Homo sapiens: one gene and its partners. The protein of the gene in region 1 purifies or fractionates together with the protein of each later gene. This does not show direct contact. Each region holds a gene or a part of one and is shown in the gene's direction. Other genes may lie near its edges.

What was found.
Region 2: the proteins of WDFY2 (region 1) and MIEF1 purify together in Homo sapiens (affinity purification with mass spectrometry; 3 studies listed by BioGRID and IntAct, with this or other methods). This does not show direct contact.
Region 3: the proteins of WDFY2 (region 1) and PALLD purify together in Homo sapiens (affinity purification with mass spectrometry; 3 studies listed by BioGRID and IntAct, with this or other methods). This does not show direct contact.
Region 4: the proteins of WDFY2 (region 1) and UTP6 purify together in Homo sapiens (affinity purification with mass spectrometry; 3 studies listed by BioGRID and IntAct, with this or other methods). This does not show direct contact.
Region 5: the proteins of WDFY2 (region 1) and CCDC51 purify together in Homo sapiens (affinity purification with mass spectrometry; 3 studies listed by BioGRID and IntAct, with this or other methods). This does not show direct contact.
Region 6: the proteins of WDFY2 (region 1) and U2SURP purify together in Homo sapiens (affinity purification with mass spectrometry; 3 studies listed by BioGRID and IntAct, with this or other methods). This does not show direct contact.
Region 7: the proteins of WDFY2 (region 1) and C2CD5 purify together in Homo sapiens (affinity purification with mass spectrometry; 3 studies listed by BioGRID and IntAct, with this or other methods). This does not show direct contact.

Annotation. Positions count from the first base shown.
Region 1 is NC_000013.11:51,586,851-51,591,292, forward strand, and holds part of WDFY2 (WD repeat and FYVE domain-containing protein 2), read left to right. Parts: intron 1-4,442. UniProt on the Homo sapiens protein: Acts in an adapter protein-like fashion to mediate the interaction between the kinase PRKCZ and its substrate VAMP2 and increases the PRKCZ-dependent phosphorylation of VAMP2.
Region 2 is NC_000022.11:39,511,348-39,515,460, forward strand, and holds part of MIEF1 (mitochondrial dynamics protein MIEF1), read left to right. Parts: coding exon 1-91; intron 92-501; coding exon 502-679; intron 680-884; coding exon 885-1,147; intron 1,148-2,169; coding exon 2,170-2,976; 3' UTR 2,977-3,882; coding exon of another isoform or gene 3,883-4,026; 3' UTR 4,027-4,113. UniProt on the Homo sapiens protein: Mitochondrial outer membrane protein which regulates mitochondrial fission/fusion dynamics.
Region 3 is NC_000004.12:168,509,946-168,514,387, forward strand, and holds part of PALLD (palladin), read left to right. Parts: intron 1-1,477; coding exon of another isoform or gene 1,478-1,559; coding exon 1,560-2,467; intron 2,468-4,442. UniProt on the Homo sapiens protein: Cytoskeletal protein required for organization of normal actin cytoskeleton. Roles in establishing cell morphology, motility, cell adhesion and cell-extracellular matrix interactions in a variety of cell types.
Region 4 is NC_000017.11:31,877,410-31,881,851, reverse strand, and holds part of UTP6 (U3 small nucleolar RNA-associated protein 6 homolog), read left to right. Parts: intron 1-1,097; coding exon 1,098-1,279; intron 1,280-3,070; coding exon 3,071-3,150; intron 3,151-3,524; coding exon 3,525-3,602; intron 3,603-4,442. UniProt on the Homo sapiens protein: Part of the small subunit (SSU) processome, first precursor of the small eukaryotic ribosomal subunit.
Region 5 is NC_000003.12:48,436,861-48,441,728, reverse strand, and holds the start of CCDC51 (mitochondrial potassium channel), read left to right. Parts: upstream 1-1,609; 5' UTR 1,610-1,741; intron 1,742-4,868. Other genes in the region: TMA7 (translation machinery-associated protein 7), read right to left, coding at 1,101-1,188, 1,271-1,326, 1,417-1,432.
Region 6 is NC_000003.12:143,018,317-143,022,758, forward strand, and holds part of U2SURP (U2 snRNP-associated SURP motif-containing protein), read left to right. Parts: intron 1-1,652; coding exon 1,653-1,720; intron 1,721-2,282; coding exon 2,283-2,377; intron 2,378-3,033; coding exon 3,034-3,069; intron 3,070-3,156; coding exon 3,157-3,239; intron 3,240-4,180; coding exon 4,181-4,346; intron 4,347-4,442.
Region 7 is NC_000012.12:22,450,059-22,454,500, reverse strand, and holds part of C2CD5 (C2 domain-containing protein 5), read left to right. Parts: intron 1-458; coding exon 459-605; intron 606-4,442. UniProt on the Homo sapiens protein: Required for insulin-stimulated glucose transport and glucose transporter SLC2A4/GLUT4 translocation from intracellular glucose storage vesicle (GSV) to the plasma membrane (PM) in adipocytes.

The DNA of each region.
Region 1 (4,442 bases):
CAAGTTGACAAGTCTGTGCTTCTTTGGGTCATATACTCAAACATGAACATAACTTTGTTATTTAGAGCTCAGTTTTGGTTATGGTTTTCATTAAAATAATTGATCTATATTCTTGCTTTCCAAAATTCAATGTTAATGTCACTTGGTACAATGCTAAATATATGAAAATGTAATATTGATTTTCATCACAACCTACAAAGCCATTACCATTCACTGCTTTAGCTAGAAACTAGTAATCTTCATTCCTGAACTCTGAGGTTAAAGCCGCAAGTAATGTTCCATACCTGAATGGCAGTGTTCCATAAATTCTTAATGAAACCCTGGTTTATCTTTTTGACCTTTGACTTCTTCATTGCCTTTATGTGTGCCTTTGAAAACACTTAACATTTTCCATTTTAAACGGTGTTATACAGTATATACTTCATGTCCATTTTATTTTCTCTTCTGTGAGTTCCCTATGGAGCTTTGTGTGTCTTATTCATTGTATCATCATTAGGGCCTAACATGGTACCTGGCATGCAATACGTCCTCAATACACGTTTGTTGTATCAGTGACTGATCTGTTTTTTTGCTGTTCCTGAAAGCACAGCATCTTAACTACTGTAGACTTTTAGTTGATATTTGTTGAGTGAATTATATGATGACCTATGAAAGGCTTATGTGGACAAGTATACACTTGTAGGAAAAGTACTGGACTAGGTGGACTTTAAAGTACTTCAAAACTCTGAAAGTCCATGAATTGCTTCATTTATTCCGTCAACAAACATTTGAGTACTTACTGTGTTCCAGTCACATGCATACATGGTAATGATGAAAATGATAAGGTCCTTTCAAGATGCTCACAATTTAGTGCAGGAATTTTAGAAGAATATTGCTTAATAAAAACAAAACTACTACTTCCAAGATTTAGTATTGGAAAGAGAATTTCAGATGAAGAATGGCAGGATTCCACAATCTGTATTATCCCCTAAATTTTACCTCCCGTTGGAGGATTCTTTGACTCAAACTGCCCTCAATAATGGCCTGATAATACTCAAATCTTCAAGCCCAAGAGTGGATAAAAATTCTTGCCTTCAGGTTCCTTTTAGCAGAGTTCAAACAGCCTTGAACTTTACTCAGTATTAATGGAGGAAATATAAAGGAATAGAAGAAATGTAAAAACAATCTGATTTACAAATAAAGATTTCTGGTGCTACCATAATACAGAGCCTGTTTCAGGAACTCCCCACCCTTGTCTGATTCTGTCTTTGCTTTAGTTGTAGTTAGATTATATACCCAAAGGGCATACCAAACTTTGATATTTTGGATACCTCATTTCCCAGCTTCTTTTTGGACTGTCTTTTCTGAGTGAATGCCATTTTAGCATTCCCTGCCTAGGAGCTTCCTTTCAGACATCTCTGCTCTGTTTTGGTCAAGACTTATGTTTAGTCAGCAGCTTAGCAGGGGCTCCTTTGTTTAGTGGCAGCCTCTTCAAGTGATGAAAGCCAGGAGGGACCTCTCTCCAGGTGGGACCAGTCCCATGCAGACCTTTGTATCTTCATAAGTTCTTTATAAGCATATCAACACAAGTCAGTAATCTTAGCATTCATACAGAGACTTTCAGTAACTTGATAGTTTCGTTTAGGCAATTATAGGAAATCATTCCCTTCCTAGGAGTTAACAACAGGTACAAACATTGTCCTCTGGGGTTGCCAATGAACCTCCTGCTTGTGGTGGTTAGAGAAGACCAACAATCTCTTCTACAGATGGGTCTTGCAGGGTGAGTAGGAGTTCTTGTGAAAAAGCCTTTCCTGTAGAGGAAAGGGCATTTTAGATAGAGGAGGCAAGAAAACTCCCATTCATTAAGAAGCACTAGAATGTCCTGATTAAGGGTGGACAACGGAGCCAATTGGCTTGAGTTCAGAACTCAGCACTCAGTGTCCTCACATTTTGAGGAATCTGGAAATTAGTGTCTGCAGGAGGAGTGACTCTGATAGCAAAAATTACTGAACCCTTTGGTTGAAAGATTTCAGGGTTCTTTTTCTGGATAAAAAGGCCTGTGTTGGTGGTAAGGTGTAGAGAAGGAGGCTGTAGGAGAGATAACTATAGAGAAGAAAGTTACTGGGGAGGGCGATATGGGGAACTGCCTTTCTATATTCTGACTTTATTCAGGACCAATTTATACAACATAGGCCCTGCTGTGTTCTCTCTAAGTCCTGAGGGCAGAGCACAAGCAATTGTTAAGAGAGGGGTGAGATTTTTAATCCCAAAATAAGGAGATCTGATCCCCAATGCCTAGCACAAAGGAGATATGCATTATATGTTCCTTGAATGAATTAAGCAATGACTGGTGATCACCTTTTTGAATTGAAATGGACCTGAGGATTTTGTGAGTTTCTGTCAGCAAAGGTATTTAAGTTGAGCCTGAGAGAAGTTTAGCAGCTTGCTTTAGGCCAGGGTAATCAACAATACAATATGGGATGGGAGTGGGAAGGGGCTGGGATGAGGGGGTTGGATTTTTTTTCTGCTTCGAGGGCCTTTTTTTCCTGACTCTAAATTACTATGATTCGAAGTGGCCATGACTACTTGACTGTTTCCTGAAAAAAATATGTTAAAATTTTATTTCATCTTATGAATCCTCATAGTATTGGTTCATTTACCATTAATTCTTTTTATTATGAAATTACACTATCCCAGTTCTCTGCTTCAACCATTAGTTTGATAATTAGACCTTGGTGCAGTTCAGTTGAGCTCCTGATAGAGTTTTATGTACCATGTATTTTATAACATTTGCACAATTTTCTTAAGAAATGCAAATCAAAGTTTTATAGTGCCAAGCACAGTTCTGAAAGTTGAGGACTTTTCAGAGTGAGGGAGTGAGCGCTCTGAAGTCAGCAAAATTAGAACCCATCTAAACTAATTTTTCAGTGTGTGAAGTCTCTAATAGCATAAAATTAATACACTTTCCACTGCGCACTTGAGACTCATCACTTGGTGGTAATAATTGTGGATTTCAAGGTCCCAAAGAGGGAACTTGTCCTGTATGATTGTGGAAAATTAGACCTTTACTCCGAATTCAAAACATGAAGCACTCTTCATGCTAGCAAATCTTTCTGGGAACAGGCTGCCTCTGTGTTTCCAAAGGTCAGAAATAGACTGACTTTTTAAGGAAAGATCACTATGGGAAAGCTTATTTGAGGAGGCTTACTAGAGGAGGATTAGCTTCAAGTGATCCCAGAGCTCCTGACAGTTCTGAATTTCCTGTTTTTATATTATTAAACCAGAGTCTGTCCAGGACCTCACAGATCTTAATCAGTATATATTCATCCACATATTGCAATGCTATGGGAAAGTTAGGATGGCAATTCTGACACTCTTAAAATGAGTAATTTTTAAATCTTGAAATCCTGACCAGCTGTCTTACACCTCAAGTGCTGCTAAACTTACTTTGAAAAAGGAATATAGGTAAAAATCATAGGATTTAAGTAGCTAGAATAAACTTTAGAGAGATGGCCTTTTCCAAACAAACAAAACCAAAACTTTAGAAAAGGAAATGTGAGTTTTTACTTGCACAGCATCTTTCTCTGGCTGTCTGTTTTCACTTTGCATTTGGCTTTGAGAAAGCATGGAGAATCATCTTGATGTCATTAGAAATAACAGTGTGGGGAAAATTAAAACACTTTGTGGCATTTAGAAATCAATAAGTAGATTGTGATTTAAGACTACTGCAGGTGGTGATTTGTTGATATCTGTAACACTAAACTAAATTGTGTACAGTATATACTTAGAAGAGACTGACCACCATACCAAGCTTTTCTTCTCAACTATTGGCAGAATAGAAAGAATTTAAAAAGAGATCACACTCCTTTATTTTTATATGAGTAGGTCTCCCAAGGAGAGTGTTACAATTAACCTAGAAATTCCCTAACAGAGAAAAAAAAAACAAAAAAAACTCCCCTTGTGCAACTTCAGCAAGCAGTCTTCTCTTTAAAAAAATTTTTTGTATTTCGGGGCAGGGAGCCTCTTCATCCAAATATTTTATTTAGTCCTTAGTAAAAATTAATTCAGAAGTATGAGAAACTAACCAGTAAGACCAAAAAAGAAAAGGTCATCTCCTTGTCTCTTGGCAGGGAGTGCTACTTTATGGTCTCCTGTGCCTTTAATTTAAGGATTCTTGGAAAAGAACTGGGAGTCTGATCTCAGCTCTACTCTGCATTGACCTTGGCATTTCCTGGGGCATTTCATCACTCTAAGCTTCAGTTTGTCCATCTGGCAAAGGAGGGGGTTAGATTTCCTAGCTATGACTCTTGTACTGTGATGTGCTTCTGTAGTGACTAGATAAGTAGTCTCTGCAACCATATCATCCTAAAATCTCAAGTGGAGGAAAGCACGCATTAGGGAAAAAGCAGCATGCTTGTGTGAAACTGTCAGCACCTCATGTTGCAACTGTAAAACGATGCTTT
Region 2 (4,113 bases), on another chromosome or scaffold:
GGCCATTGACTTTGTGCTCTCCAATGCCCGGCTGGTGCTGGGGGTGGGTGGAGCGGCCATGCTGGGCATCGCCACGCTGGCAGTTAAGCGGGTAAGTGCATGCAGCCAGGGCTGGGGGTGGAATGTAGTGGTATGGTCATAAGATGTAATGTTTTATAGAAAGAAAATGTCGAAGCGTTCTAGGAGGAAATGATCGCAATGATAAGTGAAAAAAACAGGTTTCAAAAGTATGTATAGAGTGATCGTCATTACATGCATCTAGAAAGAAACATACCAGATATTACAAACAGTTTTCTCTGGGTCATGACGTGGATTATCTATGTCTTATATCATGTAGTCTTCCCTGAGATTTTCTGCGTGGAGCAAAGTATTCTATAATCTAAAATAAAAACAAAATTACTAAAAGAACTTACTAGGACAGAGCTTCTGGGGAGGAAGTAAATTGGAAGGAAATAGGGAAAGAGGGCAGGTTTATGTCCTGTGTCCTCTCTGCTATTTCAGATGTACGATCGGGCGATCAGTGCCCCTACCAGCCCCACCCGCCTGAGCCATTCGGGGAAAAGGAGCTGGGAAGAACCCAACTGGATGGGCTCCCCACGACTGCTGAACAGGGACATGAAGACGGGCCTGAGCCGGTCCTTGCAGACCCTTCCCACAGACTCCTCCACCTTCGACACAGGTGAGAAGGGCTGCTGCCCCTCCTGGGACCTCTCTGGACTTTCAGTACCACTCCTGCACTCAGCAGATGTTTCCTGAGCACATCTGTGCCAGGCACTGTGCCAGCACTTGCCCTCCATGCCAGGCCCTTCTTTCTGGGGCTGAGGCAGCTGTGGACTGAGCAGGCATGGGCAGAGCTCACGTGCCTCTCTCTCTTGCCTTGGCAGATACATTCTGCCCGCCCCGGCCCAAGCCAGTGGCCAGGAAGGGCCAGGTAGACTTGAAGAAGTCACGACTCCGCATGTCCCTGCAGGAGAAACTTCTTACTTACTACCGGAACCGGGCAGCCATCCCTGCTGGAGAGCAGGCTCGGGCCAAGCAAGCTGCTGTGGACATATGTGCCGAGCTCCGGAGCTTCCTGCGGGCCAAGTTGCCTGACATGCCGCTTCGGGACATGTACTTGAGTGGCAGCCTCTACGATGACCTGCAGGTAACAAGGTGGTTCTCATGGTGGGTGGGGTTTGAGTGCTGAGCACCATAGTGTTGTTGGCACAGATCAGTGTCCCAGGCTTGCCAGAAAGACTGAGGTCTTACAGCTTCCGAATCCTGTGTACCTCAGCAGCATTTGGAGATCCATGCTTGTTATTCTTTTTTTTTTTTGAGACGGAGTCTCACTCTGTCGCCCAGGCTGGAGTGCAGTGGTGCGATCTCGACTCACTGCAAGCTCTGCCTCCTGGGTTCAAGCGATTCTCCTGCCTCAGCCTTCCGAGTAGCTGGGATTACAGGTGTGTGCCACCACTCCTGGCTAATTTTTTTGTATTTTTAGTAGAGACGGGGTTTTGCCATGCCGGTCAGGCTGGTCTCGAATTCCTGACCTCAGGTGATCCACCCACCTCGGCCTCCCAAAATGCTGGGATTACAGGCGTGAGCCTGGCCTGTTATTCTTTATTCTTGTGTCTTTAATCGTTTCTCATGTTTTAGTCCTACTTACAACTTCTAGGAAGCTATAAGAGGCCTCCTCCTTCCTATATTCTTGTGCCCATCTCTCCTTTCTAGTTTTCTCACTCTGTGTAGATTGCATGGTGACATGAAAGAATTTTTTTTTTTTTTTTTTGAGATGGAGTCTTGTTCTGTTGCCCAGGCTGGAGTGCAGTGGCACGATCTTGGCTCACTGCAACCTCCGCCTCCTGGGTTCAAGCAATTCTCCTGTCTCAGCCTCCTGAGTAGCTGGGATTACAGGCACACGCCACAATGCCTGGCTAATTTTTTTGTATTTTTAGTAGGGGATGGGGTTTCACCATGTTGGCCAGGCTGGTCTTGAACTCCTGACCTCAAGTGAGCCAGCCGCCTCAGCTTCCCACAGTGCTGAGATTACAGGCATGGGCCACTGCGCCCGGCCTAGAGTTCCCATTCTTGCTGGGGGGGAATGTAAGATGGTGGGAACCGTCTTAGAGGAAGCATGTCTTTTGAACAGAGTAAACCCTCAAAACCCTTTAAATTCTGCCCTGACAGGTGGTGACAGCTGACCACATCCAACTCATTGTGCCCCTTGTGCTGGAGCAGAACCTGTGGTCATGTATTCCTGGTGAAGACACCATCATGAATGTCCCTGGCTTCTTCCTGGTGCGTCGTGAGAATCCAGAGTACTTTCCTCGTGGGAGCAGTTACTGGGACCGCTGTGTAGTAGGGGGCTACCTCTCTCCAAAGACAGTCGCAGATACATTTGAGAAGGTAGTGGCTGGCTCCATCAATTGGCCAGCCATAGGGTCCCTCTTGGACTATGTGATCCGCCCGGCCCCACCCCCAGAAGCCCTCACACTGGAGGTGCAGTATGAGCGTGACAAACATCTCTTCATTGACTTCCTGCCATCAGTGACCCTCGGTGACACAGTCTTGGTGGCCAAACCACACCGGCTAGCCCAGTATGACAACCTGTGGCGGCTGAGCCTGCGTCCCGCGGAGACGGCACGCCTGCGGGCTCTGGACCAGGCTGACTCGGGCTGCCGATCTCTGTGCCTCAAGATCCTCAAGGCCATATGCAAGTCCACCCCGGCTCTGGGCCACCTCACTGCCAGCCAGCTAACCAATGTCATCCTCCACTTGGCCCAGGAGGAGGCTGACTGGTCTCCGGATATGCTGGCCGACCGTTTCCTGCAGGCCTTGAGGGGACTTATCAGCTACTTAGAGGCTGGAGTCCTGCCCAGTGCCCTAAACCCCAAGGTGAACTTATTTGCAGAGCTCACCCCTGAAGAAATAGACGAATTAGGATACACTCTGTATTGCTCATTGTCTGAGCCAGAGGTGCTGCTGCAGACGTAGGGCAGGTGAAGGCCAAAGCGGGTGTTGGTGGTCAGGCCCTGGATTCTCCGTTAGATACACTTGGCTACCTAGTTGGTGCCTCACAGGGTTCCTGCTGCCTGGTGTCTTGCTGATCATCACCCTGGTCACTTCATGCTGATTAGAATGACATCTCTTTCGTCTCCTATTTTGTTACCCAACTCTTCCTATTTTTGTTACCAATCACTGTGCTCTCTGCCGCCCCCTGGCTCCAGGCTAATTTTTCTGGAATGAATTGAGAAGGTGGCGTGCTGGCCTGAGCTGATGGACCACTTGGTGTTTTGCGTTTTGGCCCATGTTTGCTGCCTCTATCTGGTCTGCCTTGCCCGTTTGCCTGTTCCTATTCAGTGTCTTTTCTATTTTTTCCTCTCTCGTTCATGCCTTCTGTTTTGCTCTTGTCCCTGGAGCATATCTGCCTAATTAAGATGTTGCCTTTTAGTTGAATGCCACTGAAGAGCTGTGATAGCATGTTTCAAAGCTGAACTCTACAGAGCGAGTGCTGAGACAGTATTTAGGGTTTCTGGGAGTGAGGCTGGTAGAAGAGTTGGCCTTTGACCACGGTTCCTGGAGTAGAAGTCCATCCTCCCCCCAACCTCCTGACCCATTCATAAATGCTGAGAATGTCTCTCATGGGAACACTGTTAATGACCCACACAGGATAAGCTGAATGCAAAGTTATTTGCAGGTTGAATTTCTTGGTGGCTATTAGCAGAAGTGCAGAGTAGGGAACCAGAGCTGGTTAAGGGCCTAGTGAAGGGTTTGTGTGCCCAGTGTCTGCTCGTCATCTGTGGCTGCAGGGGTCAGACAGACAAGGATGGGGACTGCCAGGGCACCACTTCATCATGAATGCTGGTTTTCACACCTTTTCCTTATTTTATTGCCAATCAGGACAAGGCCTTGAAGGAACGCAGCCTTAGACATCAGGTGAGGATGATGGAGGTAGACAGTCGACTGAATGTCAGCTGGAAAATCCAGTCACTAGTTGGGGTTTGGTGGCCATGTTTTCTACCCAGACAGGCCCTGCTTTTCTAGGATGTGGCCTTAGAGCAAGAACAGACCCAACAGCCAGCCCTTCATCCTCCAGCGTCTGCCATAGGAATGTGAGAGGGGTGTTTGCTG
Region 3 (4,442 bases), on another chromosome or scaffold:
TAGAGATTTTCTTAGATGGGAAGATACTTCTACGCAAGCAACTCAATTCAGTCCTCTGAAGACACACCATTTCTGGGGAATGTCCCACCAAGTTTACTCCTGACTGACACAAGGTAGAAAGTTGAGGTTCACCACATCCAGGAAGCTTCCATTATTCACTCCTAGACTCAGTCTTGTGGCAGACATCACCGCTGATGTTTTCTAGATCGTCCCTCTCAGTACTCTATGAACAATATATAGCAAAAGAATGGCACACTTAGAGTAACAAGGAGTCATTGCTTCACAATATAAAGTTCAAAATGTCAGTGGAATTTAAAGCTGTAATAGCTTACAGATAATGAAATACCTTTTATTTAATTCTGCTGATATTCCCATGTAAGTGTTCTATGCCAGGCCTCTAGTTATCTCATGCCCTTTAAGATTAGATTAGACTCTCATAGCCCCCAGGTTTTTCTCACTTTCCTTAAAAGCCTTATCAAAATTTTATATTATTAACATATTATTTGTTTAATATCTTCTCTATCTCCTCCACTTTACTACCTCCCATGACTTTTAACTCCTTGAACATGATAACTGTGCTGTAAGTCTGGATGAAGGGTCAGCAAATTTCAGCCCCTGAGCCAAATCCATCCCAACCCTTTTTGTATGCCCTGCAAACTAAGAATGTTTTTCTCATTTTAAAACTATTGTTTAAAAATTAAATATCAAAATAATAATAGTTTTAACACATTAAAATGATATAAAATTCAAATATGAGTGTCCATAAAGTTTTATTGGCACACAGTCATGCTCATTCATTTCCATCATCTTTGGCTGGTTTCATGCTCATGCAGAGTTGAGTAATTATAATAGAGGCTGAACAGCTCACAAAGTCAAGAGTATCTACCATCTGGCCCTTTCCAGAAAAGTTTGCCCATCCCTGGCATACAGCACAGCTGTACTTCCAGCACCTGAAATTTAATAAGTGATTATTACCATCTGTTGGACTGTTGAGTGAATGAATATGAATGCACATAACTGGAGACAATAAAGTTTCAAAGATTTCACTGAAAACTATAAATAAATGAAAATTGGAATCCTTAAAATGCATTTTGTGGTTTAGGGTTGGATAATCAGAGTCAGATTTACTAAAAATATCAATATTCTATTGATCTCATTACATTAATCAATTAGAGTTTGAGTAAGGTGGGCGGGGGGCTGACTGTGAGCCCTATCCTACTAATAGTGCCTACTGCACACATCATCTTTTTGAATGATTTAATACTGCCTAGTGAGATATTTGATAGCACTCACAGGGCATGTATTAAAATCATAAAATGATCAACACAAGTATACTTGATATTTCTTCCAACTTGTAAAATAAAGAAAACTTATATTCATTCACTTTAATGTTTCTCCCAATTTGTGACTTACAAGTTTTATGATTAAAATGGGGAAAAAATCATTGCTACTAATGACATTCTATGCTGTCTTTCAGAACACAGTTTCAGAAAACAGTTTCCAGTGCCTCTGGCCTTCCTACTGAAAGCAGACACAGAGTGCATGAAGACCGTTCAAATATGTCAGGGACCTCCTCCCATGAGTCCTTCTATGACTCCCTCTCAGACATGCAGGAAGAAAGCAAGAATACTGACTTCTTCCCGGGCCTTTCTGCTTTCCTCAGCCAGGAAGAGATAAACAAGAGTCTTGACCTGGCCCGGAGAGCCATAGCCGACTCCGAAACAGAAGATTTTGACTCGGAAAAGGAGATCTCGCAGATTTTCAGTACTTCTCCTGCAAGCCTCTGTGAACATCCTTCCCATAAGGAGACCAAATTGGGTGAACACGCCTCGAGGAGACCTCAGGATAACAGGTCAACACCTGTCCAGCCTCTGGCAGAGAAACAAACTAAGAGTATCTCTTCACCTGTTTCAAAGAGGAAACCTGCCATGTCACCCCTGCTCACCAGGCCCAGCTACATCCGGAGCCTCCGAAAGGCTGAAAAGCGTGGTGCAAAAACTCCCAGCACAAACGTAAAGCCCAAAACGCCACATCAAAGAAAGGGTGGCCCCCAGAGCCAGCTGTGTGACAAGGCAGCTAATTTAATTGAGGAGCTAACATCCATATTTAAAGCCGCAAAGCCAAGAAACAGAAGCCCAAATGGGGAGTCCTCGTCACCAGACAGTGGGTACCTGTCTCCTAAAAATCAGCCGTCAGCCCTGCTGAGTGCCTCAGCCAGCCAGAGCCCTATGGAAGACCAAGGGGAGATGGAAAGAGAGGTCAAGTCCCCTGGGGCCAGGCATTGCTACCAGGACAACCAGGACTTGGCAGTGCCACACAACCGCAAGTCTCACCCACAGCCCCACAGCGCCCTCCACTTCCCAGCTGCACCTCGATTCATCCAAAAGCTGAGGAGCCAAGAAGTAGCAGAAGGGAGCCGAGTTTATCTGGAGTGTAGAGTCACTGGAAACCCCACTCCTCGAGTCAGGTATGAATTTTTGTATTATGCATAGCAAATGATCTTGTTGACTTTGGTGTTACTTTAATATGGGAGGAAGAAAGATTTCCTGTGTCATTAGCCCTCTGGAGACTGAGGTAGAGTACTTGCAAGGAGAGAAGCAGCCCAGAATCGCCACTATGAGTTGTCCTAGTTGTCCCTGGCCTGATATATCTGTGGTCATGCACCCTCTGTGCTAAGGAAGGAAGGCAAAGGACTTGAGAAGGCAAAGAGCAGTGGAAACAGTTTGTTCTCTAAGATGGTGGAACTAGTAACAAATAGGCACACTTAAGATGTGAAACTTATTTACTCGAAGTACTGTGAAAAGTGTGTGTATATTTGAATATGAGTTGCTAAAGACGGTTGAAAGCATGGCTAAAACTAGCTGCTATCTAGAAGTGAAAGGCACGAGTGTGTAGAGGCCAACCTTCAGATTAGCCCCCAATAACGCATTAAAGGGAACAATAAACACCGAGGCCTACTTGAGGGGGGAGAGTAGGAGAAGCCTGAGGATCAAAAAACTACCTATCAGGTACTAATCTCATTACCTGGGTGACAAAATAATCTGTATGCCAAAGCCCTGCAACATGTAATTTACCCATGTAACAAACCTGCACACGTATCCCCGAATGTAAAAGTTGGAAAGAAAAAAAAAAAAGATTCTCATATACAAGAAACAAAAACCAAACAAAAATTATCCCCCAAATGGATAATCTAGTCTCAGGCATGGACTAAATAGGCACATATTCAGTAACATAAACACACACACACCCCTTCAATGTGATGCAAAGAAGGAAGGCAGAACTTTCCTAAGAAAGAAAGATAAATCAAGTCAGGAGCTCCGCAGGTCTGCCCGTTATTCCTACACAGGCTCTGGCCACTAGAGCATGGAGACAGCAAGAAATAACAGTGAAGGGAGTATGCACTTAGAGTTAATAGGCACTCATACCACCATGTTCATTAGAATTTCTATACATTCTTCTGACTTCATTGTAGAGTTTATACCTTCCCCTGAGCAAAAATGTTAAGGGGAAAGAGATCCTGGAGTCCCCCTGCAGGGTTTCCAGTCATGATTCCATTGCCCAAGTTACTCTACCCCTCTGTGACTCAGTTTCTTCATCTGTGAAATGGGAAGTATAATGATACCTACATCATTCTGTTTTATGATTAAATAATACATGGGGAAAATTAAAGCAGTACCTTGCAGCTAGTAACTGCTGCAGTAGTGTTACCTATTATCTTTATTATTTCTCATTTCTTAATTTTATATGGCAAAATGAAAATAACAAGTCAGGATTATACTACACAAATAATGAATATTCATTTATCTGGGAAGTTTTGCTTTTATTCATGCAGAATGCTTTACCTAAATTACATAAATATTTAAAAAGTTAACTCAAGGGCCAGGCACAGTGGCTCATGCCTGTAATTCCAGCACTTTGGGAGATTGAGGTGGGTAGATCACCTAAGGCCAGGAGTTCGAGACAAGCCTGGCCAACATGGTGAAACCCCCTCTCTACTAAAAATACAAAAAATTAGCCAGGCATGGAGGCGAGTGCCTGTAATTCCAGCTACTCAAGAGGCTGAGGCACAAGAATCACTTGAACCTGGGAGGCAGAGGTTGCAGTGAGCCAAGATCATATCACTGTACTCCACTCCAGCCTGGGTGACAGAGCGAGACTCTGTCTCAAAAAAAGAAAAAAAAAAAGTTAACTGAAAATTATTTGATTTGGAAAAAAATGGTAAAGTAGACATCACTGGCTAAAGATTGAATTGAAACACTGGTACTTTCTTACTAATAGCATTTCACAGATCACAAACTTCCCTGTATCTCTGATCCTTTGCTCACTAACACAAGCTTTGCTAGTGTTGGTTTCTTAATCTGACCTCATTGTGCACACACATGAAGTAAAAATTAGCATTACTGGCTGAAAAGTGGTGTGATTACAGGTGGGCGATTTTTTTC
Region 4 (4,442 bases), on another chromosome or scaffold:
TATGGTGGCATGCACTTGTAGTACCAGCTACATGGGAGGCTGAGGTGGGAGGATCACCTGAGCCTGGGAGGTGGAGGCTGCAGTGAGCCATGATGGCACCACTGCACTCCAGCCTGGGTGACAGACCCTATCTCAAAAACAAAAAAAAGTTCTTCAGGTCTCTTGGAGTCTTGTGTTGTCACAGATAACTGCTGATTTGACTTTGAGAGCTAACTTGAAAGTTAACATTTGTGAATGATACCTGAAATATTCTGAAACTCAATAAATGTGGGACAGCTCTGGCCAGGTGCAGTGGCTCACACTGTAATCCCACCCAGCACTTTGGGAGCCCAAGGCAGGAGGATCACTTGAGGTCAAGAGTTTGAGACCAGTCTGGCCAACATGGTGAAAACTCATCTCTCCCAAAGAAATACAAAAATTAGCTGGGCGTGGTGGTATGCGTCTGTAATTCCAGCTACTTGGAAGGCTGAGGCAGGAGAATTGCTTGAATCCAGGAGATGGGGGTTGCAGCGAACTGAGATTGTGCCACTGCACTCCAGCCTTGGTGGCAATGAGATTCTGGCTCAAAAAAAAAAAAAAAAAAAGTGAAAAAGTGGGACAATTCTGATCCATTGACAAAATTTCTACAGTTAGTGAACATATTCTGGAGAGCCTGTTGGGAAATATATTTTTTTTTTTTTTGAGACAGAGTCTCGCTCTGTCGCCCATGCTGGAGTGATGCGATCTCGACTCACTGCAACTTCTGCCTCCTGGGTTCAAGCAATTCTCCTGTCTCAGCCTCTCTAGTAGCTGGGACTACAGTCACATGCCATCATGCCTGGCTTATTTTTGTATTTTTAGTAGAGATGGGGTTTCACCATATTGGTCAGGCTGGTCTCGAACTCCCGACCTCAGGTGATCCACCCACCTCAGACTCCCAAAGTGCTGGTCTCCCAGTGGCGTGAGCCACCGGGCCCGGCCTGGGAAATAGTTTTTATGGTACTGCAGTTGTTACAGGGATGTCCTGTGTAGATTTTTTAAGCACAGGTAACTGTTTCTCTGATATTCTGAGTCAGTTTCTTGTTGTGGGATTGATAACAGTAAATTGTATTTTTCAGCCTTCAGGCTCTACACACAGATGATCCTCTCACTTGGGATTATGTGGCAAGGCGAGAATTAGAGATTGAGTCACAGACAGAAGAGCAGCCTACAACGAAACAAGCCAAAGCAGTGGAGGTCGGCCGGAAGGAGGAGAGGTGCTGTGCTGTGTATGAAGAGGCAGTGAAGACTCTGCCAACAGGTGAACTTCACCAAACCATGGTGTGATATAGAAGGAATAGTATCCCTGATTGTGAAACTTAAGCTCCTGTTCCCATTGCCAAAATCAATATTGGGGATGTCTCTGTAACATAGTTTACGATGAGCCTGGCCTTTTTTTTTTTTTTTTATTGGGAGGCAGAGTCTTGTTCTGTCACCCTGGCTGGAGTTCAGTGGCTCGATTTCGGCTCACTGCAACCTCCACCTCCCGGGTTCAAGCAATTCTCCTGCCTCAGCCTCCCAAATAGCTGGGACTACGGGTGCCCGCCACCATGCCCAGCTAATTTTTTTGTATTTTAGTAGAGACGGGGTTTCACTGTGTTGCCCAGACTGGTCTCGAACTCCTGAGCTCAGGCGATCTACTTGCCTTGGTCTCCCAAAGTGCTAGGGTTACAGGATTACAGGCGTGAGCCACCGTGCCTGGGTTTTTTTTGTTTTTTGTTTTTTTTTGAGACAGAGTCTCACTCTGTTGCCCAGGCTGGAGTGCAATGGTGTGATCTCGGCTCACTGCAGCCTCCACCTCCCAGGTTCAAGCGATTGTCCTGCCTCATCCTCCCGAGTAGCTGGGATTACAGGCGTGTGCCACGATGCCTGGCTAATTTTTGTATTTTTAGTACAGACGGAGTTTCACCATGTTGGCCAGGCTGGTCTTGAACTCCTGACCTCAGGTGGTTTGCTCACTTTGGCCTCCTAAAGTGCTGGGATTACACGCATGAGCCACCGCATTTGGCCGTGCCTGGCTTTCTAACTTGGTCTTGGCTTTCTAACTTTTATGACCTTCCTCCATAGTAGTGGTATTTATGTTCATCTATTTTGGGGGAAGCTTAGGAAATAATTTCTAAGATTCTTCAATTATTATTTCTTAATTATCTATGTTTTTTTTTGAGACAGGATCCTGCTGTGTCACCCAGGCTGGAGTGCAGTGGCGCAATTTCAGCTCACTCCAACCTCTGCCTCCTGGGTTGAAGCAATCCTCCCGCCTCAACCCCCTGAGTAGCTGGGTCTACAGGCGCATGCCTCCACGCCAGGCCAATTTTAATGTATTTTTTGTAGAGATGGAGTTTTGCCATGTTGCCCAGGCTGGTCTTGAACTGCTAGAATCAAGTGATCTGCATGCCTCGGCCTCCCAACTTGCTAGGATTACCGACATCCTTAATTATCTTTTTGAGACAGAGTCTCACGCTGTTGCCCAGGCTGGAGTACAGTGACACGATCTCGGGTTACTACAACCTCTTCCTCCCAGGTTTAAGCAATTCTCCTGCCTCAGCCTCCCGAGTAGCTGGGATTACAGGTGCATGCCACCATGCCCCATGGATTTTTGTATTTTTAGTAGAGATGAGGTTTCACCACGTTGGCCAGGCTGGTCTTGAACTCCTGACTTCAGGTGATCAGCCTGCCTCAGCCTCCCAAAGTGATGGGATTACAGATGTGAACCACTGCCTCGCCCTTAATTATCTTTGGAAAGTGATTTAATTTTTATTTTGTAATAATGTAGAATAAAGGCAGAGGGGATATATAACCTGGATAAGGCTTTCAATTTTTATATTTAAGCTGTTACTCAGTTGTTTTCCCCCAATATTTGAGGTGTTTGATTGGCTGTAGTCAGCATAACACTTCTTAAAATCAGGCTGATTTAAACTCTTCTTCAGAGGAGAGTTTTCCCCTTGAAGTAAAGGTGTAGGATGACTGTTTTTTTCCTTATCTTTTAATAACTTTGATGTGATGAATGTTGAACTAAGTGATCTGATCAACACAATCTTTCTGACTTTTCCAGAGGCCATGTGGAAGTGTTACATCACCTTTTGCTTGGAAAGATTTACTAAGAAGTCAAATAGTGGGTTCCTTAGAGGGAAGGTGAGGTTGTTACATGGTTACAGTGGTTGACTAGATAGTGACTGCCTTCTGAAAGAACAGAAGCACAGATCTTTTGGTGTCTGGCACAGTTTCTGAGAACTTTTATGTTTAGCCACTCTCTCTCTCCTTGTGGGTGACGTGACATTCTAAAGGTCTGAGTCTGGTTTGCCGCCAGGTTAGGAGGGGCTCTCGTGTAACTGGGCTCTGTTCGGTGCAGCTGCCCATTGCATCTATTCATAAGTGAAACCACCATGCAGGAGCAAGTCAGCTTCTTTGAATTTTAAGAAATGCGCAAAACTGCTTTTGTTCATGTCAGAGGCCAGAGGCCCCTGCTGGGATCTTTGTAATGAACTGAGGGATTTTTCTGTTTTCAGAGGTTGGAAAGAACCATGACTGTATTCAGGAAGGCACATGAACTGAAGCTTCTGTCAGAATGCCAATACAAGCAGTTGGTAAGAACATAGAGAAAATATTCTGTGCCAGTTACAAATACCTTATTCCAGTTGTTTTGTGCCAGAGTCATGTTTTAAATATATATAGTCTTAAGATGAAGGCCACTTGGGAGTTCGGTATGTGAAGTGTGTTTATATGTGTTTCCCAGTATTTGGCCTATGCAAAAAATGAAATCTGTACTAGCAAAGGGAGGAGTATTATACAGTGAAAAGCACTTAGAACAAGAGTCATGATTTGGGTTTATTTTGTTTGTCCACCCATTCCTTTTTTTTTTTTTTTTTTGAGACGGAGTTTCACTCTGTTGCCCAGGCTGGAGCACAGTGGCGCGATCTCAGCTCACTGCATCCTCTGCCTCTTGGGTTCAAGTGATTCTTGTGCCTTAGCCTCCCAAGTAGCTGGGATCACAGGTGCATGCCACCACGCCCAGCTAATTTTTGTATTTTTGGTAGAGACGGGATTTCACCATCTTGGCTGGGCTGGTCTCTAACTTCTGACCTCAAGTGATCCCCCTGCCTCGGCCTCCCAAAGTGCTGGGACTAAGGCATGAGCCATCATGCCTGGCCAAATTTTTGTATTTTTAGTAGGGACAGAGTTTCACTATGTTGGCCAGGCTGGTCTTGAGCTCCTGACCTCAAGCGATCTGACTGCCTCAGCCTCCCAAAGTGCTGAGATTACAGGCATGATCCACTGCTCCTGGCCGTGCCTGGCTTTCTAACTTGGTCTTTCAGGCGTGAGCCACTGTGCCCAGCCTAGATGATTCATCTTCTGTCGGAAGAAACATATCAAACCGTTTTGTCTCTTAGACTGGAGGCTCTATGGGTGGTAGGGAATGCATCTGA
Region 5 (4,868 bases), on another chromosome or scaffold:
TTATGATGCACATAAAGTACTAGAACTGCTGGGCCTGAAAAATATTTTGAAATGTAATGAATTTCTCCTACATAAAAGATGTAAAAAAGGTGGAGGATTCAGTTAGAAAAGCATATGGAGCAACAGCACACTGAAGAGCCTGGACTTTATCTTTTAGTCTAGGCATACCCAGAAGTAAAAAGACTCAGAAAGCAAAAAAGCATATATTAGAGATAATATAAGCAGTACGAAAAAAAAAAAAAAGTTGGCCAGGTGCTGTGGCTCACGCTTGTAATCCGAGCACTCTGGGAGGCAGAGGCGGGTGAATCACTTGAAGTCAGGAGTTCGAGACCAGCTTGGCCAACATGGTGAAACTCCGTCTCTACTATAAATACAAAAAAAAACTGGCCAGGTGCGGTGGCTCACGCCTGCAATCCCAGCACTTTGGGAGGCTGAGGCGGGTGGATCACGAGGTCAGGAGTTCAAGACCAGCCTGGCTAAGATGGTGAAACCCCATCTCTACTAAAAATACAAAAATTAGCCGCACTCCGTCTCAAAAAAAAAAAATTAGCCAGGCGTGGTGCCAGGCGCCTGTAATCCCAGCTACTTGGGAGGCTGAGGCAGGAGAATTGCTTGAACCCGGAAGGTGGAGGTTGCAGTGAGCCGGGATCACGCCACTGCACTCCAGCCTGGGAGACAGAGTGAGACTCTGTCTCAAACAAAACAAAACAAAACAAAAAAACTTCTAAGTCAAGTAAGGTTCAAACACTAGAAGGCAGTGAAATACGAATTTGGGGCAAAAGATTGCGGACGACGTCAGACTTTGAGAAACTTAACTGTGAATCTGCGTCTGAGGTAAATACATTTCACTGTTTCCGTTTCTGCAGCTCTTCCTAAGGAATGGAAGCCCAGACTGCCTGGGAGGCAGGAGACCTCGTTTCCAGCTCCCGGCCCTTACTGCCGCTGCAAATCCTAGACTGGCTAGAGACCATTCGCTGCAGCGGACGTCGGAAAACGAGACCTCGCAGTTCAGGAGGCAGGAAAAAGACATGCCCGCGCCCTCATCCCAATAGGTGCTCATAGCGTTTGGCCAGCTTGAGCTCCATTCGGCCCCCACTTACCCAAGGGCCCCTTCCCCGCGGCCTTCGCTTTTAGCTCCTCGAGTTTCTTCTGCTCCTCTTTTTGTTTCTGCTTGAAAGCCTTATCTTCCTGGGGAGAGGCAGAGCGTGTTCAACTCAGGCCTGTCTCCCAGCGCCCCCGCACCCGCCAGTGCCTCCGCGCCCGCCCTCACCTCGTCCATCTCCTTGGCCTGCTTCTTGGGCTGTTTCAGTGGCTTCTTCTTGCCACCTGTGGGCGACACGAGCACGTTCGGCCTGCCCCTGCCGCCCGGTCCCCACCCCGCCGTCCCCGCAGTCCTCACGGTTCCGGAACACTTACCTTCGCGGCCGGACATGGCGCCTGCCGCCGCTTCCCCAGACCCTGCCACCGGAAACGGAGCGTCTGCCCCACCCTTTGTCGTAGACAGCGAGGCGGCCCCGCTGATTGGCTCCTAGTCAGGAAGTTGAACTCTCGCTACCGGATGCGGCGCTCCAGGGGCGGGTACTAACAGGTCAGAGGTCAACTGAGTGGCAGACGATTGGTCGGGCCACGCCAGGTACGAGGAGCTAGGGTTGTCCTGCCAGGGTAGAATCGGAACCGTAGGAGGGGTACTTAACCGGACGGCCTACCAGGCCTGTGGCCGTGCGCGGGAAGAGCACTGCAGGTAGACAGCAGGGCATGTGCATGTGCAAAGAGCTTCAAGCTCGTCGCTTTCCTGGAACCAAGGAAAGCACAGCTTGGGTGGAGGGAGATTAGGCGGGGAGATGGCAGAAGTGGACGGGAGTTATATCACGTGGTCCTATAGCTTTGGAAAACCCTGTAAGGAGTTTTATAATATAGTCAGGGGTGCAGCAGTTTGCGAATTCTGTTTGTTCATCTATGAAAATGGTCAAAAAAATTTATTTTGGTGATGGCCATACAACTCTGTTAATATAGTAAAACTACTGAATTGTACACATTGGGTGAATTATATGGTATGCAAGTTATATATCAATAAAGCTTTTTTTTCTTTTCCCCCCGAGATGGAGTCTTGCTCTTGTCTCTCAGGCTGGAGTGCAATGGCACGATCTTGGCTCACTGCAACCTCTGCTTCCTGGGTTCAAGCGATTCTCATGCCTCAGCCTCCCCAGTAGCTGGGATTACAAGTGCCCGCCACCATGTCCGGAAAATTTTTGTATTTTTAGTAGAGACGGGGTTTCGCCATGTTGGCCAGGCTGGTCTCGAACTCCTGACCTCGTGATCCCCCCGCCTCAGCCTCCCAAAGTGTTGGGATTACAGGCGTGAGCCACCGCACCCAGCCAAAGTTGTTATTTTTTTAAATAACAGTGCTGAGCGCTGGGATGCTACAGTGTCCAGAGATTAGGCAGATGAGTACATTTTTTGCTGGGTACGTACTATATGTAGGTACCAAGCTGAAATTCTAGTGAGTGAGACAGACTATAACCAAAGCAAATAAATGGGATACATGTTGCAGGTCATGTGATATATGCATGGAAAAAATAAAGCAGAGAAAGTGGGTCAGGAGTGCTAGGGTGGGAGTGGGATGGCCATATCTGATAGGGTGCATGGGGAAGACCTCCCAAGGGGCTACTATTTGAGCAGGACTTGAAGAAGGTGAGGGAGCGAGCAGCACAGATAGCAGCTGTCGTGAAGGCCCTGAGCTGGGGACAACTTGGTGCGTTCCAGCAACTTCAAGAAGGTCCATGTGCTTGGAGTGGAGTGAGGAAAGGGAGACTAGTGGGAGATGAGGTCAGAGAGGAATGAGAGCCAGTGGGTAGGTTCCCTGTAGGCCATGGAAAAGACAGGCTTTTACCTTGAGAGAAGTGGGGAACCATTGTAGAGGTTGAGCAGAGAGACAATGGTTCCACCTGTGTTTGGAAAGGAACACTGACTGCTCGACTGACAATAAATTGTAGGGGCTGGAATAGAAGCAGGGTGACATCTGTCAGGAGGCTCTTGGGATAATCCAGGCTAGAGATGTGATGTGGGTCACTGGGACCATTTGGTAGCAGTGGCAGAGGTGAGAGGAGGAGGGATCCTGGATTTGGAAAGCCAGGGGCATTTGCTGATAGATGGATGTGAGGTGGGAGAGAAATGAGGAATCAGGGGTGATGCGAGGTTGTTGATCTGAATATTTGAACTTGGTATTGCTGTCATCCATGATGGAGAAGGCTATGGGAAAAAAAGGTTTGGGAGGGGAAGATGAGATCCCCATTAGATTTTCAGGCAGAGATATAGGTTGGGAAGTTTGATAAATGAGCCTAGAACCCTGGGGAGAGAGGTCTGCGCTGGAGGAGTCAAGAGTATAGTTCTGTTTTTTTTTTAAAAAAACAACTTTATTGATATATAACTTGCATACCATGTAATTCATGCAATGTGTACAATTCAGTGGTTTTATTATATTCACAAAGTTGTATGGCCATCACCAAAATAAATTTTTTTGACCATTTTCATAGATGATTTTTAAAACCACAGGACTGGATAAGAGAGGAGTCTGAGTGCCGAGTGCCGGGGTGCTACAGTTTCCAGAGGTTAGGCAGATGAGTGGGGACTGGAAACCGAGTGAAAAATGGCATGTGAAGGAGGAGCAGGTGAAGGCCAGATCAGAGGGAGCTGGACGGAATCAGAGAAGAGGAACAGAAACAGTGAATTCAGGCAGTCTGTCAAGGAGTTTGGTTATAAAGGAAACCAAAGAAATGGGGCAGTTGCTGGTGGGGGGGTGTCAGATCAATTACTGAGTAATGTCTCAGGAGGAGAGAGGATTTGGGACCTGGGGCACAGGTTGGTTTTCCCTAGAAGCATGGGTTTTTTATCCTGAGGATCAAGAGAGGAGGTGGAAATGGGGCAGTTACTGATGGTTGGGAAGGTATGGTGGGAGTTTGTGGAAGTTCTCTTCCAACTTTTTATTATTTTCTTGATGGAAAATGAAGCAAGCAGACCATCAGCTGGAAGTGAAGATGAGGAACAGATGATAGAGGCTTGAGGAAGGGGCAGTTGGTAGGAGACAGCCATCTACATAGAGCGGGAGAATGGATCTGAAGGGGCAGGATTCCGAACTTGACCCTCAGGGCCCTGCTTCACCTATCCAGCCTCTCCATCCACTCTTCTCTGCTTTTGCTTTCCAGTTGCACTGACTGCCTTTCAGGTTTTGGGCGACCTCAAGCACTTTCCACCTTTTCTCTTTGCCAGGAACATTCTTCTCCTTGCTGGTTGGGGGGCCTGTGAAACATCTAAGTGGTGACATCCTGGGGGCTGAGAAACAGGGCCCAGGGTTGGGGGCTGGTGGGATGGTGGAGAGGCTGAGGGGAGGGACTGGAGTGGAGAAACAACTCCAGTTGCCACATGGGAATTATTGCCACATTCCCTTATGAAGTCTGTTGTCACCCAGCTTATGTTCTAGTGAGAGAATAGGCAACACATAAGGAAATATATCCATCAGGAGAAAAATAAAGCAGAGAAGGTAGCTGGGGAGGGAGTGGTCAAGGAAGCCTTACTGAGAGGTGATATTTGGGCAAAGATGAAGATGTCGGGGTGAGCCGAGTAGACTCGTGGAGGAAGAGTCATCCAGCTGGACAAGGTGGCAGGGCACAGACCAGCACGGTGGCTGGAGCAGAGTATGGCAGTAGAAGGAAGAGGATGAGGGCTGAGAGGTCTCAGGATTTCTTGGCCACCGCCAGGTGAAATGGGAGCTGTTGGGGGATTTTGATCAGAGGGATGTAATCTGATTTTTGTGTTACAGGGCCTTGGGCTGCCATGTGCAGAACATGGGGGTGGGGGACGGCAGGGGAGAA
Region 6 (4,442 bases), on another chromosome or scaffold:
GCTTCATTACTTAGCATAATGCTTCAAGGTGCATCTTTGTTGTGGCATGAATCAGTACTTCATTCCTTTTTGTGGTTGAATAATACTCCATTTTATGGACATACCATATATTGTTTATCCATGCATTACTTAGTAGATGGACATTTGGATTGTTTCCACTTTTCTGCTGTTAGAAATAATGCTGCTGTAAACATTCATGTGTGGGCTTTTTTTGTGTGAACTTATGTTTTCAGTTCTCTTGGATACATGTATATACACACACCGAGAAGTGGAATTGCTGGGTCACATGGTAACTATGTTTAGCCTTTTGAGAAACTGCCAGTTTTTCCAAAGTGGTTGTATCACTTTACAGTTCCACCAGTAATGTATGAGGGTTCCAGTTTTCTCACGTCGTACACTAACACTTTGAGACCAGCCTGACCAACATGGAGAAACCCCGTCTCTACTAAAAATACAAAATTAGCCGGGCATGGTGGTGCATGCCTGTAATCCCAGCTACTCGGGAGGCTGAGGCAGGAGAATCGCTTGAACTCGGGAGGCAGAGGTTGTGGTGAGCCAAGATCACAGCATTGCACTCCAGCCTGGGCAACAAGAGCGAAACTCCATCTCAAAAACAAACAAACAAACAAACAAAACTATTTTGTTTGAAAAGTTTATTTTAGTCATTTTAGTGTGTGTGAAGTTGTACTTCATTGTGGTTTTGATTTGCATGTACTTGATTATATTGAGCATCTTTTCATGTGTTTATTGTCCATTTATAAGTTTCTTTTGGAGAAATGTCTGTTCAGATACTTGGCCCACTTTTTAATTGGGTTATTTGTATTTTTGTTGTTGAATCGTAAGAGTATTTTACATCTTCTTGAGTCAAGGTTCTTATCAGCTATATGATTTGGAAATGTTTTCTGTTCTCTGGGTTGTCTTTGCATTTTCTTGATGGAAGCATGGAGGTTTTAAACTTTAATGGAGTCCAATTTATCAGTTTTTTTCTTTTGTTTACGCTTTTGGTGTCATATCTAAGAAACCATCACCTAATTCAAGATTATGAATATTCATTCCTGTGGTTTTCTCCCAAAAGTGTTATAGTTTTAGCTCTTACTTTTATGTCCATGAACCATTTTGAGTTAATTTTTGTACATTTAGTATATGGTGTAAAGTAGAAGTCCAACTTCATTTTTCTGTATGTAGATATTCAGTTGTCCAAGCACCATTTGTTGAAAAGATTATTCTTCCCTATTAAATTATGTTGGCACTTCTAAAAGAAGGATTCCAAAAGTAGATTAAGAAGCAGTTTTAAAAGAGGATTCCAAAGATGTTACTTACTGTTCCAGTAACTCATGTCCTCCAGAGGTGATTTTTGAAGAGTGCGTATTTTTGGCAGTTACTTTCCATGGCAGTTCAGTTACTTCATGTTCATTAATTTCCCTGACTACTGGTTGTCATTTTAATTGTTTAATTGTAGTAATAATTTAATTGTTTGTTATTTTGAAGGAAGGGGAAGGGAGGTTCAATGATAAGAAAAGCATTCTTCCTTTTTAATTTAAATAATTAGAACATACAATTTGTACTGAAATGATGTAAAAAGGCTCTTATTATTGAATCATTGGTTTTGCTTATCCTTTTGTTTGAAGTATAACTTGTCATATCCTTTATAGCCACTTAAAAAAGGAGAGAAAGAAAAGAAAAAAAGCAATTTGGAACTCTTCAAAGAAGAATTAAAGCAGTAAGTTTTATAGTGTGGAGAATAACTATCATAGGTGTATTGAGCTGATACATAAACAGATGCAAGTATAAAGAATATACTGTACCAGTTAGTTATTACTAACCAGTTTGCTATGAGATTGTTTTAGATATTATAATATTTGGTGGGCTATCTTTGAAAATAAATTAGCATTTAGTCCAGCACCTGGGTTGCTTGCATTACGAGGATTCAGTTCAATTGATTTACTTAATGTCCAGAGTCCTGTTTGCAGTGGAAACAGTATACTCACTGGGATGGGAGTGAGGGGCAGTTAGACTTAGCAAGAAACAAATTCAGTGGTTTTAGTGTTTAATTTCCTCCTCACCTTTAAAGTAGGCTTTGTGTTCCATTGGTAGTATGATATATCAGAAATTTGCTCGTGGTTGTATTATAGCTGAGGGACCCTCTAATCTTGGTTATCAGTACCAGTATTTAATTACAGATATTTCTAGTTATTTGATGATAGTAATTTGATAAGCGCTATTCTGAAATGTGAATGAACAAATTTTGGCTCATTATAAGTGATTGTAAATATTTTCAACAGAATTCAAGAGGAACGTGATGAGAGACATAAAACAAAAGGCAGATTAAGTCGATTTGAACCTCCTCAGTCAGATTCTGATGGTCAGCGTCGTTCTAGTAAGTGGCATTTATTTTAATGTGTATGCTTGTGATTAATTACAGTAGTTCCCACCTTATCCGTGGCGGGTTACATTCCAAGGATCACCAGTGGATGTCTGAAACCATGGATATATACTATCCTTTTCCTTACACATTCATAGCTGTGGTAAAAATTAATTTGTAAATTAGGCACAGTAAGAGATTAACAACAATAAGTAATAGAACAATTATAACAATATACTGAAATAAAAGTTATGTGCAATCCCAACACTTTGGGAGGCCGAGGCAAGTGGATTACCTAAGGTCAGGAGTTCGAGACCAGCCTGGCCAACATGATGAAACCCTGTCTGTACTAAAAATACAAAATTAGCCGGGCGTGGTGGTGCGTGCCTGTAATCCCAGCTACTCAGGAGGCTGAGGCAGAAGGATTGCTTGAACCTGAGAGGCAGAGGTTGCAGTGAGCCGAGAACGTGCCATTGCACTCCAGCCTGGGCGACAGAGCAAGAGTCTGTCTCAAAAAACAACAACAACAACAACAGAGTTGTGTGAAGTGGTCTCTCTTTTTGTCTCTCAGAAATACCTTACTGTAACAAACTGGGGGAAACAAAGGTGAGGGTAAGGGGGGACTACTGTATTATAAAAACTAATAATTGTCTTCTTTTCTCCCCTTTAAGTGGACGCGCCTTCAAGAAGAAATAGATCATCTGGTGGTAATACAGTTTTTTGCTCTTTTAATCGATAAATTTTCCAAACTTTATGTTTTGCAGGTTATAATTCTTTTTTTCTTTCTGCCCTAGTTCTTGATGATTACGCACCTGGCTCACATGATGTAGGAGATCCAAGCACTACTAATTTATACCTTGGAAACATTAATCCACAGGTAATATTAAGTAAGATGAATGTTGATTGATATGCTTTATGCTTTTGGAAGAAAGCTTTGTTAGTCAAAAAAAATCAAGATTCTGAAGCTGACAAATCTGATGGAATTGGATAGTCTTTAGAGTTGTCTTACTGGTATGGCCCAGGTTGTCTTGCCACATATTCTTGTTTCCTCTTTCAGTAACTAGATTGAACTCTGGATTTGAAATGTTTTACTAGGTGCTGATTTTATTATTAAATCAGGGTGTGACCATTGATGAATAATATTATTTTGAGACTGTCCACTTCTGATGCATACTTGTTTCCTTGTGGAGTCCCTTTTTCTTCTCATAGTAGTAAACTACTCTTTGTGGTTTGTCTTTTATATTTTAATTCTTTTCCTGCATTGGTGCTGTTAATTATGATATGGGGAATGTAGTAACGGTAGTATATAATATGCTATTATTAAAAATTATATTTTGCATATATACTGTTACCTGTTTTCTCTGCATTTGATTACATGGGTAGTTGATTGTTAGAACAGATGATTAGATACTTTTTTTCTTCATTGTCAATACATATTTCCTCTTTAATTTAAATGTACTAACCATGCCTGCTTGAAAAATGTTACTAAATGCCTAAACAAACCATCACTATAAAACATCTTACTTAGATCCAGGACCTTAAAACAAAGGAAGATAGAGAGTAAAAATGATTTTGATTTCTTCATCCACTGAACTTCCCCACCCTGGCATCTTAAATAAACCAGAATATTTATAGTATGAAATGATTTATGAATGCCCCACGCGGGATTTTACTTGTGTGGCGTTCCTGGTACTTAAATGGAAAATTGAAGCACGTTGCTATGTTGCTTTTTATTTTGTAAAAACTACTTTGTTTTCTGAAAATAATTTTTTCTTTTCCCTTTTTTGCATAATAAAAATCTTTTACCCTTTTTAATAGATGAATGAAGAAATGCTGTGCCAAGAATTTGGAAGATTTGGACCGTTAGCCAGTGTGAAAATCATGTGGCCTAGAACTGATGAAGAAAGAGCCAGAGAGAGAAATTGCGGCTTTGTGGCCTTTATGAATAGAAGAGATGCTGAAAGAGCTTTAAAAAATTTGAATGGTAAGAACATTTTTATTATCCATTTATACAATTCAGATATTTCTTTGGTTTGGAAAAGTATTTATAAAAACTAGGAAGGATTGGACCTGAAATGGA
Region 7 (4,442 bases), on another chromosome or scaffold:
CTGAAAAAAAGGCAAGTTTGATTGGAACATGGTTCAGGTTCAGAATGAGAGATATAGATAACAGGTAAGTTTTATCGTTTAGGCTTATCATCAATTTGTTTAAATGATGATGAGCATGATATGATGGAGATGTTGAAGGTGGAGGCACAATTTGAATTCTTGCCTTGCCATTTACTTACTAGCTAATTTGATCATAGCTAGTCATGGGCAAATTACAAATTCTCCGGGCTTCAGTTTTATCATCTGTAAAGTAAAGGTAGTAAATCCTTGCCTGGACATGTGTTCAGTCAATGTTTGTTCATTCATGCAGTAAATCCCCATTGTGAGGGAAGTTTAAGTTATTTGGTATATTAAGATAATTTAGGATGTTTTAATATATATTCTTTGACATTTTGTGTGCATTCCTATATCCATACACATGTATATATAGTATGATTTTCCTGTGCACTATTATTTAGGAAGGAGGAGTCAGTGGTTTTCTCCATGCTTTTATTGCTGAAGTGTTTGCAATGGTGAGAGCTCATGTTGCTGCATTAGGAGGGAATGCTGTTGTCTCCTACATAATGAAGCAGTGTGTCTTCATGGAGAATCCAAATAAAAACCAGGTAAGATGCAGTTAAAAATTCCTGATTGGCGGGAACCTGAGAATTTCTTCCATGGCTTCCTACCCCTAACCCCCTCCAAAAGAGAATTGCTCTTTAGAGCCCTTTGAGTCTAGATGCGTAAGATATTTTAATGAGTTTATTCATAACCATGGTCATACATAGTCACAAGTCAATACATGCTATTTCGACATCTCAGGTAACTAGGGTATTATTCTTAATCACATCTGGAATTTGTGCTCCTGAGTTACTGTTTCCACCCTCTTGTTGGTAGGTGTTTAGAATACAGTGATAGCTAACTGAGGAGAGCTAAAGATATCCTTTAGTTTGGACTATGATGCTGTCCAGTTTCAGCTGCCTTACTAATGAAGAGTATATCATAGTAAGGCCATAGTAAGGCTTGCTTATTTCTAGTAAGTAGTGTTATTCTCTTAATGGGGATGAAAGCAGTTAGTTTAAATCTTAAAATAAATTTCTAAATTTTGTGTTAAGATAATTCACTTAAAATTGTTAAAATTTTTTAAAAATTAATCAACTATACTAAATAGTATGAAATGCCATAAAGGCAGTTCTTCCCAACCTGCTTCTCTTGGCACACATCAAAAATCCTATTTCTGTGGTCCACTGGTACACTGTGATGAATGCATGAAGCTGTATGTGGCTGCTGGTAATTGGCCCTGCGTTTCTGACCCAAGTGACTCCCCTAAGAGCAGAGGGGATCAATATCTTGGCAGACACAGAGCTTAAGAAGCTCTAATATAGACTAATTACTTATCATTTAAGCAGGAGTAAGAATGAATAGATGTGTATATGTATATATATTTTTTGCCCCTACCTGTACATCTAGATAATTGTAACCAAAGACAAATCATTTAAATTCTTAGTATCATTTTTTCATTAGTAAAATTATCTTATAGTGAAAGTGAGTTGCTGTCATAAATATATAAGCAGTTTGAAAAGACATTATGGAAATGCAAAATTGTTTTAGCTTTATTTAAGAGATAGGGTCCTGCCATGTTACCCAGGCTGGACTTGAACTCCTGAGCTCAAGCGATCTTCCCACCTCAGCTTCCCTAGTGGCTGGGACTACTGGCACATGCCACCACACCTGACTGGTTTTAGTTTTATTTTGAAATCATGAAGTTTAATCAGTTTCTTCAGAAGGGTACTTCATTTACTAAGTTCTTTTCAGGTTTTCTTGATAGTTTATACATTTTTGTAACTCACGGTATACTAAACTTCATTAACATGTTGAAGAAACATAGTGATAAACAAAACTATGAGACAACCTTCTGATAAATTTTGGCAATGGCTAAGGCACGTTAGAGGGGGAAGGGAAGCTATGAAACATCCTAGGAGGGTTTTTGGTAGATAATTGGGGCATATCTAAAAGCTCAGTGAGGCTACTGCAGTTCTGGATTCGCAGCTAGCTTATTGATAAGATTTGGCGTGAAGGAGATTGTGTGGAGTGGTCAAAAGGGGTACATGGGGAGAAGAAAGATTGAGAAAGGAACAGTGAGAAAGGCGGGAGGGAAACCAGGAGGGCTGCGAACTACCTCTACACGGATCGTTTGAAAGTAGAAGTAGAGTGGAAACCAGGCACATCCTGAGCAGGAGTATTTGATATCACTTGATATTATCTGGTCGTAAAGAACGCATCTATTAGATCTTGAAATTATATTCAACTGGATACTTCTTTGTAATAATTTATTTGATATAAGAGGATTTTCCCTACTTTAAGAATCCTTTTTTGCTTAATTACTTTGTATTTGAGATTGAGATTTGTAGTTTTGGGTTTTTCCCAGTGTTAAATTTATACAACTTGTTCACTGACTTAACTAGCACCTTAACAAGTGCCTCAAAATCAGCTTATCCAGAACAGAACTTATCTCTATGCCTCAGTTTTCTCATCTATAACATTGGGATAAAAATTGGGGAAATCATGAGTTAATATATGTAATGTGCTTAGTGCTGGTGGATTGTAAGCACTGTAAAAGTTGTTACTATTATCTTTTAAATGTTTGTCTTCAATGATTTCTTACAAGACAAAGTCATGCTTCTTAATATGTCATACAAGGTCTTCCACATTCTCAAGTCTTCTACCTTTTCAGACTCATCTGTTGCCCCCCTCACCTCTCCTAACATGCCCAAGAGGTAGATTGCATTGTTTGGTTTTCCAAATGAACTGTGCTTTTTTTTTTTCTTTTTTCATTTCTAGTACTTTGTAGTGTTGATATTAACTCCATTTTGTAGGTGAAAAAAACTGAGGGCTAAAAAACTTAAGTTTGGTATGAGGCTATAAGTAGAAAAGCTAGAATATACCCAGATTTTCCACCACCAGTCGTCTTCCTCTGTACCCAAATAATAACTGTCAATGGCTGATTACCACTGATGTGTACACATCATATCAGGTGCCATGATTTATGTCATTAGCTTTTTCCCCCACTTTTATGTGAGATCTTGCATATACACAAAAAGTGTAGAGAATTGCACACAGACATTCTTACACGTGACCCTCAGCTTAAGAAATAAAATATTAAAAATATGGTTGAAGCCTCAGTGGGCCTGTTTTCTCTTTATAATGAATGAACCATCTTAATTTTGTTGTCATTCCTATGCATGCCTTTATATCTTAAAAAAATTAATTGTAGTTTTATTTTGTATCTAAAATGTTTTAATATATTTTTGAATAGGTAGTACATGATTCAAAATTCAAAAAGGTATGAATGGAAAAGTCTCTCCTTGTCTGCTGTTCCAGCCAGTCACTTTTCTTCCCCACATGCAACCAAATTTTTCATTTTTTTTTTTATGGTAACTTCTAGAGATGTAACACTCCAGAGTGTGTAACCAGAGAGATTTTATACATACAAGCAAATATATATAAATATATATTCTTTTATCTCCCAGTTTAATATAAGTGGTAGCTTTACAGTACATATTGCTCCTCAGCTGTCTCTTTCACCTGCTTTTTCTTGGCAACATTTTCATTTCAGGACATAAAGACTACCTTTATTGTTTGTTACAACCACATAACACTCCATGGTATAGGTCGATCGGAATTTCTTTAATTAGTCCCCTGCTGATAAATATTTAGGTTATTTTCAGTAAATGTTGTGCTAATACATACAGTGCTACAAAAACAATGTGATGCATAAGTGATTAGCACAAGTGTGAGCATCTCTGTAGGGAAAATTTCTTAAAACAGAATTGCTAGGTCAAAGTAGTACCTTTGTAATTTTCATAGAGATTTCCAAAGTTCCCCTTCATTGAGATATTTTGCATATTCTTTATATAAATATAGAAGGATATATATAATTATGTAAATGATTTTATATTGTATATATCATTTTGCAAATTGTTCTTAATTTATCATAAGATTTACCCATATTGATTGAGCTTTAGGTCATTTTTCACTTCCATATAGTATTTCAGGCATGAATATTCCACAGTTTATTTTCATTTCCCTTTTGATGGGCATTTAGTTTGTTTCTAGGATTTTGCTAAACATGATGCAGTGAAAAGTTACTTATTAATCTTTGTTGCATACATGTCCAAGATTTCTCTAGGGAACACATATACATGGAATTAATGGGTCAGGGAGTGTGTTCTTTTTCTGCTTTAGGAGACGGTTCTTTTCAGGATGGTTGCACTTCCTGTTGCAGTGTTAAGTGTGTTGCTCTTGTCCCATGTCTTTGTTAACACTTGGTAACATCCAACTTTTACATTTTTTTGCCAGTATATATGAAGTGGTGTCTCGTTGTCATTTTAACTGTATATCTCTAATAGCGGGCTTGAATATGTTTTCATATGTTCACAGGAGCTCCTTGAGTTTTCTTTCCT